Homo sapiens: one gene and its partner. The protein of the gene in region 2 purifies or fractionates together with the protein of the main gene of each other region. This does not show direct contact. Each region holds a gene or a part of one and is shown on either strand. Other genes may lie near its edges.

Region 1 (3,829 bases), on a different chromosome or scaffold from region 2:
CTGGAGGCAGAAAAAGCACATCCACTTTGGGGAACCACAAGCTGTGCATTAGGACTAGAGCAGAAGTGGGAGGTTGGAGAGGACACTAGAGAAGCAGGCAGGAGATTAATGATGCAAGACCAGGCTCTGGGAACGTAGGCAGGAAGTATGGGCTTTATTCTGAAAGTGATGGGGAGCCAATGAAGAAGGCAAGCCCAGGAGCAAGATGATCAGACTTGAGTTTCAGATCTTTCAGCTGGTGAATAAATTGGAGGGAGGCCAGACTTGGGGGAGGAAGATGAGTTTTGAGAAATTTCCAGAAATTCAGATGGTGAGAGTCTAAATCAAAGTGATGTCAGAGTATATACAAGAGACACAAGATTTCACCAGAGTGGGCAAGGAAGAGCAGCACCCCCATGGAATAGTGACTAGACAGGGCACGTTCTTGTTTTTTTTGTTTTTTGTTTGTTTTGTTTTGCTTTGCTTTTTGAGACAGAGTCTCCCTCTGTTGCCCAGGCTGGAGTGCAGTGGCGTGATCTCGGCTCACTACAACCTCTGCCTCCCGGGTTCAAGTGATCTTCCTGCCTCAGCCTCCCGAGTAGCTGAGACTACAGGTGCATGCCACCATGCCCACCTAATTTTTTTGTATTTTTAAGTAGAGACAGGGTTTCACCATGTTGGCCAGGATGGTCTGGATCTCTTGACCTCGTGATCCACCCGCCCTGGGCCTCCCAAACTGCTGGGATTACAGGTGTGAGCCACCAGGCCCGGCCCAGGGCACATTCTTGTTTGTGCGTGCAGTGTGACCCCCAACCTCCCACCCTTCCACAACTGGGAAGAGGAAGCACGGGCCAGGCATGGTGCTGGGTGATTTCTACATCTCACCTAACGCGCTCAGTAACTGTCTGAACACGTGGGATCGGCCTCATAGATCAGGAATCAGGGCTTCTGGAACTGACCGACTCAGCAATGAACAGGGCAGTGTTTTCTCCTTAATGCCCTAAGGATTTTTGAATCCGCTTTGCTTGCATCTCTGTGAGCCCCTAGCTAACTCCTTACTTCGCTGGTTAAATATAGCACCTCTTATCTTCTACTCACCTCATTGCCAGAAAGGTGGTACATCCTGGCTTCCTGGAGCAGCGGGAAGACCTCTGGGCACTGCCTGATGAGAGGATCTGCTTCCACCGTCTCCACAAAGTACCACGGGTCCAGAAGCGGTAAGCGCACGTTCTCGAGGACATAGGGGAGTAAGCAGAGTCGTTCTGATGGCTTGTGCCGGACCCAGCTCATCACGGTCTCAAACACCTGAGCCTCCTCGGTCACGTAAAGGTCATCACTCTTCAAGATGTGGTGCAGAGTGTCCACGGGCAGGTCAAGAAACTCCTCAGAGTTCAGAATCTGCACAAAGTTTTGAATGATGTAACTCTGAACCTGCTTCTTTAGACTGTCCAGCGAGTGTGTGTCAGCCAGCCTCAGTATTCCAACGCAGTTTTCTGGGTTCAAGGCTTCAGTGAGGAAGCTGGCACAGGCATCCACCATCCGCAGGAACTGATGAAATAGAAAGGGTGGAAAGGAGGCCAGAAAATGGTGAGTCCACAAGGAGGTTTATCAGTGAGTTATGTGTATTAGCCAAAAATTGGAAACAACCTAAATGTCCAACAGTACAGGATGAGCTAAATACATATAATTCATTCATACAGTAGACTTAAAACAATGAGATACTTACTGGACGAGCTAAATACATATAATTCATTCATACAGTCGACAAAACAATGAGATACTTACGGGAGGAGCTAAATACATATAATTCATTCATACAGTCGACTTAAAACAATGAGACACTTACGGGACTAGCTAAATACATATAATTCATTCATACAGTCGATAGCTCTGTAGATACTTAAAACACATGTTGTAGAAAATATTAAATGAAATAGAAAATGTTCATAATGTATTGAGTTTTAAAATCTGTTCATTGGATCTGATTAAGCCTCTACATTTACTCAGCAATTTACAGGAAATACAGGGAAAGAGGAACCTGCTAAAGACGTCATGGGAACATGATCAGCAAAATCCAGATTGTGGAAAACTCTACTGAACAACTTGTTCAGTTTCTTCAACAAATACATTACAAGGGGATAAAAGAGAGAGAGAAGGAGAGGGAGAACCTAAAGATAAACAGAGATTTAAGACACATTGACCAATTGCAAAGTATGGATCTTATTTGGATTCCTGATTTAAACAATATATATTTTTTAAAGTTGGAGAAATGTTTACAATGACTAATATTTGGTGCTAATGAAACAATTATGATTCATTTTAGGTGCCATAATGGTTTCATGTTTATGTTGAAGAAGAATCCTTATTTTTTAGAGCTATAAGTGAAATATTTGCAGATAAAATGAGAAAAGCACGTCACAAATCATATGTACATTGTGACCTTATTTTTATAAAGAAAACATACACAGAATAAAGTCATAGAAAGAAGATGAAAGGATGTAGGTCAAAATATTAATGGTTGTTATCTCTTTGGGTTATCAGGTATCTTAAGGCAAATTCTGCTGCAGCAGCAAACAACCCTCACGTCTCAGGGGCTTACAATAAATGTTCCTCTTACCCACTATGTGTTCTTCACGGGGCTCTTCATTCCAGGGGCCAGGAAGATGGAAAGCCCTTACCTGAGACATGCTGGTCCCATGACAGAAGGGGAAAAAGATGGCAGAACCACACAGAGGCTTTTAAAGCTTCTGCTCAGAGGGGGCGCATGCTATATCCATTTACACAAAACCGTCCAGAGTAAGTCACATGGCAAAATTTGTCATCAAGGGAACCATAGTTCTCCCACAGAAACAGGTCTCATGGGATGGACAGGGAATATACTATATAAATAATAGAAGGTATGACACTCTAAGAAGACTATGAGAATTTTTCTGTTTTTGTTTATTTATATGTTTTATTTATTTATATATCCTTTAAAATGAATACGTACCGCTTTTGTCATTAAAAAATCAATTTGTAAAATTATTGATTGGCTCTCAGGTCCCACTTTTAAGTTATCACCATCCTCATAAAAATTCAAGTCCCTTGTGCTTGTAGGGCACTTTACAGATGACAAAGCACTGTTATATCCATTATATTTTGTAATATCCATTTTACAGATGACATGTCTCAAATGCATTGGTTCATTCTTATTTGTTGTTCTCTGGAGCTTAGCTTTGAACAATTTCAACCTCCTAGCTCCCTTCCCCGTCTACTGGACTCCTTATAGGGTCAAGTTCTTGGTGCCCATGGGTTGATCGATTAATGGGGGGAGAGGAAAGGGGAGGCTGAGGGGGCAAGACCTGGTGGGGGTGGGGGAGGCCTTCTGAAGGCAGGTCCTGGTGAGAGTAGGGACAGGACAGACCTGACTGGGGAGGGTTGGCAGGAGCTGTGGGGAGTGGGGCTATCGAGCCTGAAGGTTGATAGTGGGGCAGGACTGGTTCTAAGAGTGGACCAAGGTGACCTAGGCTCTGGACTTTACTCCAGAGCATTCCAGGGAACACATCCCTGACTTTTTGGATCAACCTCTATTGCAAAATATTATCTTTCTGTGTCAGATCACATAGGATTGTCAGTTTAAAAAGCATTTTTTAGGCCGGGCGCGGTGGCTCACGCCTGTAATCCCAGCACTTTGGGAGGCCGAGGCATGCAGATCACCTGAGATCAGGAGTTGGAGACCAGCCTGACCAACATGGAGATACCCCGTCTCTACTAAAAATACAAAATTAGTCAGGCGTGGTGGCACATGCCTGTAATCCCAGCTACTCAGGAGGCTGCAGCAGGAGAATGCTTGAACCTGGGAGGCGGAGGT
Region 2 (3,829 bases):
TCACAAAGATGTCCTGATTCCTCCAAAAGGGCATCTTTTTTTGATGGTAGGGACTTGAATTTCTGTAGCCCACGCATCTACCATAGTGCAAAATACATAAAAACACAATTATGTTTTCTAAGGAGTGAATGACTATTCTTGAGCAATCCTCCAGGCAGCCACCATTGCCCTTGCTGACTTGCCCTCTTGACCAGACACACCGTTCCTCTTCCCATGGAGTGAGGAAGGATCTGAAGGCTTGGAAAAGCCACAGAGTATTAGATTGACCTTCCTCATGCTCTTCTCTGCTCTCGGCAGGACCCAAACCCTTCCTGAAGTGATGAGAAATTACAGCTTTCCGCTCTGTCCTTTGGTTAGATACACTGCCCTTTATGCCTCACTGGTCTTGGGGGAATGGCAGTAGCAGGGCAGCTAGTTCAGTCTCACCCATACTTTGGGAATTTGTATGTTTATGTAATGGTCCACTCATTTAGATGAGGAAAAACCTGCTTCTGGCTTCGCTTTTCATTAATTATTAAGCAGTCTAGTACAATAGACCATCTATTAATTACAGAGTTATTTTATTGTTCTGGAAGATAGGTAGAATAAGTTCATTTTCAGTGGCAAACTGCCATAAATTCATAATGTGATTAAATGAAAATACATAGAAATCATAATGTACTCTTACTGTCATTTTTTCCCAATTTAACTGTGAAAGCAAGGCTACAATTTTGCTGATCAATTATATTGCATATGAAGACTTCTATACCTATCATTCAGAAATTAGAACTATTTTCTCATACATACTAAGTAATTTGCATTTGTTTCCACTTTTAAACACATTAACCACTTTTATTTAGCAATGAGTGTCATGTTGGTCACCTGACAAATGTGTTTCCTAGCTTGTAGACAACTGAAAATCAACCTTTGAATCCCACACTTTCACAGAAGGAATGTGTTCTTGCTGTTAGTTTCTGAGTATGTTCTCTTTCCTATTTGCATTTAGACGACAGATTCTGGAAGATATTTTCTACAAGCCATAAAGTGGGGGTCGTGGCCATAGAGACATTTTGAGTATTATCTGTAGGGAGTTCCTTTGACATATGCAAAATGTATAAAGGATACAACTCTATAAGCCTGAAGATACCTTTTACTAACCAAATTGTTGATTACTGAAGGTAGCTTCAATCCCATTTACTTTGTATAATGAAGATAATACTGCATAGTGTATAAATTTCCCCATTCTGGGATGATATGTGCTATAAAAATGAAAGATTGACAAAGCTATTGTTATTTAAAATAGCAAAGTATAAATACAATGCATAAAAATCAGTGGAAGGAACAATATAAGAGTTGCTGAACCAAATCAAATTAATAGTCCATCTAATTTGATTCTTGTTTTCAGCACTGACCGATACTTAATGCATTGAAAATTAAACAAAATTTATGCACCTACTCAATTGTGCATTGCTCCTTCTGGAAGGAAAATTCTTTCTGCTCCATGCAGGTGATTAACTTATACCCTGAAGCATGAGATTTTATTATCTTTAAATCACGATCTGGGTTTACAGAGCTGCAAATTTTACGTTAACAGTCATACAATGATCCATCCCATTTGCAAATTCAGACTCAATATTTGTCTCCATAGCTCACCATGGCATGGTATCTGTAAGTTTGCCTCATTCTATAAAAAGAAACTGTTTTTTTCAAATCCACTTTCCTTTAATTGAACTAAGCATTGTGCTTCTTTACTACTGACTATGGAAACAGAGAACTTTCTTGACTTAATTCAATATTGTCCTGTTCTGTACGTTAAAAAAAAAAAAGGTTTCCATTTGTCCTTTATAAATTTTAGCACTTCATGAACTATTCCTTAAGGTAGAAACAAAATCTTATATTTGATGTTATGACCTTAAAATCATGAATCTGATTGCCTTTATTTAATAAACCAGAACATAGTTATCCAAATGCCATATCCTTCCAGGTTGGCAATCCTGAGAAGTTGTACACTTATTTCAATAATGCTGCCTTTATTTGGGATATTTGGGAGCTTCCCTACTGGAATTCTCTTCAGAGCCTGTGAGACACTGTTTTACATATCCTCAGACAACTCTTTGTCTTTTGATGGTGAATTTGATTTTTGGAAACAGCTAATAGTCACTTGAAGCCAAGTCTGCGGGTTATATCTGGGTGATGTTTGGGGAAAAGAATGAGGTGTGAAAACAATGTAACAAGATTGATTTTCTAATGTGGCTCATAAACTTTTCCTGACTACAGTTCTAAAAGAGGAGTTTCAAAAATTTTTTGAACTCTGGGAGCAATAATAAAATGAGTTTGCAGCCTCCCAAGGTGACTACTTTGAATGCAACACTCATTTTGGGAATATAAATTCTGGTCTATGTGGTAAAATGAAACTAGTTCCATTGCTCTATAGTTATACATTGTTTTCAGCATAATAATTTAGATCCATGTCTAGGAATTCCCGAGTCTATGGAAAAACTATATTTCCTTAAGCTTTATTTGACAGTCCAACCCCATATGACCTTCAATAGCGTGTAAAATTGCTTAAGATGGGAAGGCCAAGCCTCCATAATAGCATATATCCTTGGACCTCTTTGCAGGGTTCATAAAGATCATTTCAATTAAGAAAACTATAGATGAATGCATTTTTGTTTATATCTAGATCATATCTTTATAAAGAAATGCATCTATGATGCAAAATTTTCCTTTTTAATGTCACTTTTAAAATTTCCTTATATCAAAGTAGCCTTTGATATAAAGACAAATTGAAAATATCATCCAGCTAAATTTTCAATGATATGCAAATCTTTCCCCCCTCCTTTCTATACCTACTAATACTAAAAATAAAATTAATAATAATACTCATAGCTTATATTTATTAAGTGCTTCCTATGTTCAGGATGCTGAGTCATGCTGTTTATTTTTTAAATTTTTGAATTTTAAAAATTTTAATTGTATTGTGATAAGAACACTTAACATGAGATCTACCATCTTCACAAATTTTCAAGTGTACAATCCAGTATTGTTGACTCTAGGTCCAATGTTGTACAGCAGATCTCCAGAGCTAATTCATCTGGTTTGAGGAATGCTTTCTGCCTGTTGATTATTGACTCCCTATTTCCCCCTCTCCCAGCCCTGGCAACCACCGTGCCACTCTTTGAGTCTATGAAATTGACTATTCTAGATACCTCCTATAAGTGGAATCATGCAGTACATGTCTTTCTGTGACTGACTTATTTAATTTAGCATAATGTCCTCAAGTGAACCATGTAATTTGTATAGATTTGCTTATTTTATCCTCATGGAAACCCTAAGATGTAGGTCCTATTATCTTCTCTGTTTAACATTTGAGTAAATGGAGACTTAGAACATACAAGGAACTGCATGAAGATATGCAGTTAGGAAGTGGGAAACCTGGGATTCGAATCCAGATCCACCCGCCCCAGAGACTACAGACTCCTCAGTCTGAGGACTCTCCCAGTATGATAGAGGTGGCACTTTTTAGATGTCCTAGAACAGGCTTCCTGTGATTCCATATGAAAGTGCAGAGGTTGAAGTTGCCTTAGAGGCCTCCAATCCTTATTTATAACATTTGCTTCTGCTTTTAAGTTTCTCTATGGAAAGAAGTTGTTTAACAATTCAAGAGTTTAGCAATGTCCCCTGTTCAGATTAAATTAATCTAATTTGAAATGGAACCTATTTTCTTATTCTGTAGTCAGAGAAAATTAAGCATGAATAATCACCACCCTATGTCTAATGCCAATGTGGACTTAAACACCTTTGAGTCTTTGTTTTCTGGGTTTCATAATCTTGAATCCTCTCTTTTTCT

What was found.
Region 1: the proteins of TOX (region 2) and KLHL6 purify together in Homo sapiens (affinity purification with western blotting; one study listed by BioGRID). This does not show direct contact.

What each region holds. Positions count from the first base shown.
Region 1 is NC_000003.12:183,506,982-183,510,810, forward strand, and holds part of KLHL6 (kelch-like protein 6), read right to left. Parts: intron 1,528-3,829; coding exon 1,078-1,527; intron 1-1,077. UniProt on the Homo sapiens protein: Involved in B-lymphocyte antigen receptor signaling and germinal center formation.
Region 2 is NC_000008.11:58,818,485-58,822,313, forward strand, and holds part of TOX (thymocyte selection-associated high mobility group box protein TOX), read right to left. Parts: intron 1-3,829. UniProt on the Homo sapiens protein: Transcriptional regulator with a major role in neural stem cell commitment and corticogenesis as well as in lymphoid cell development and lymphoid tissue organogenesis.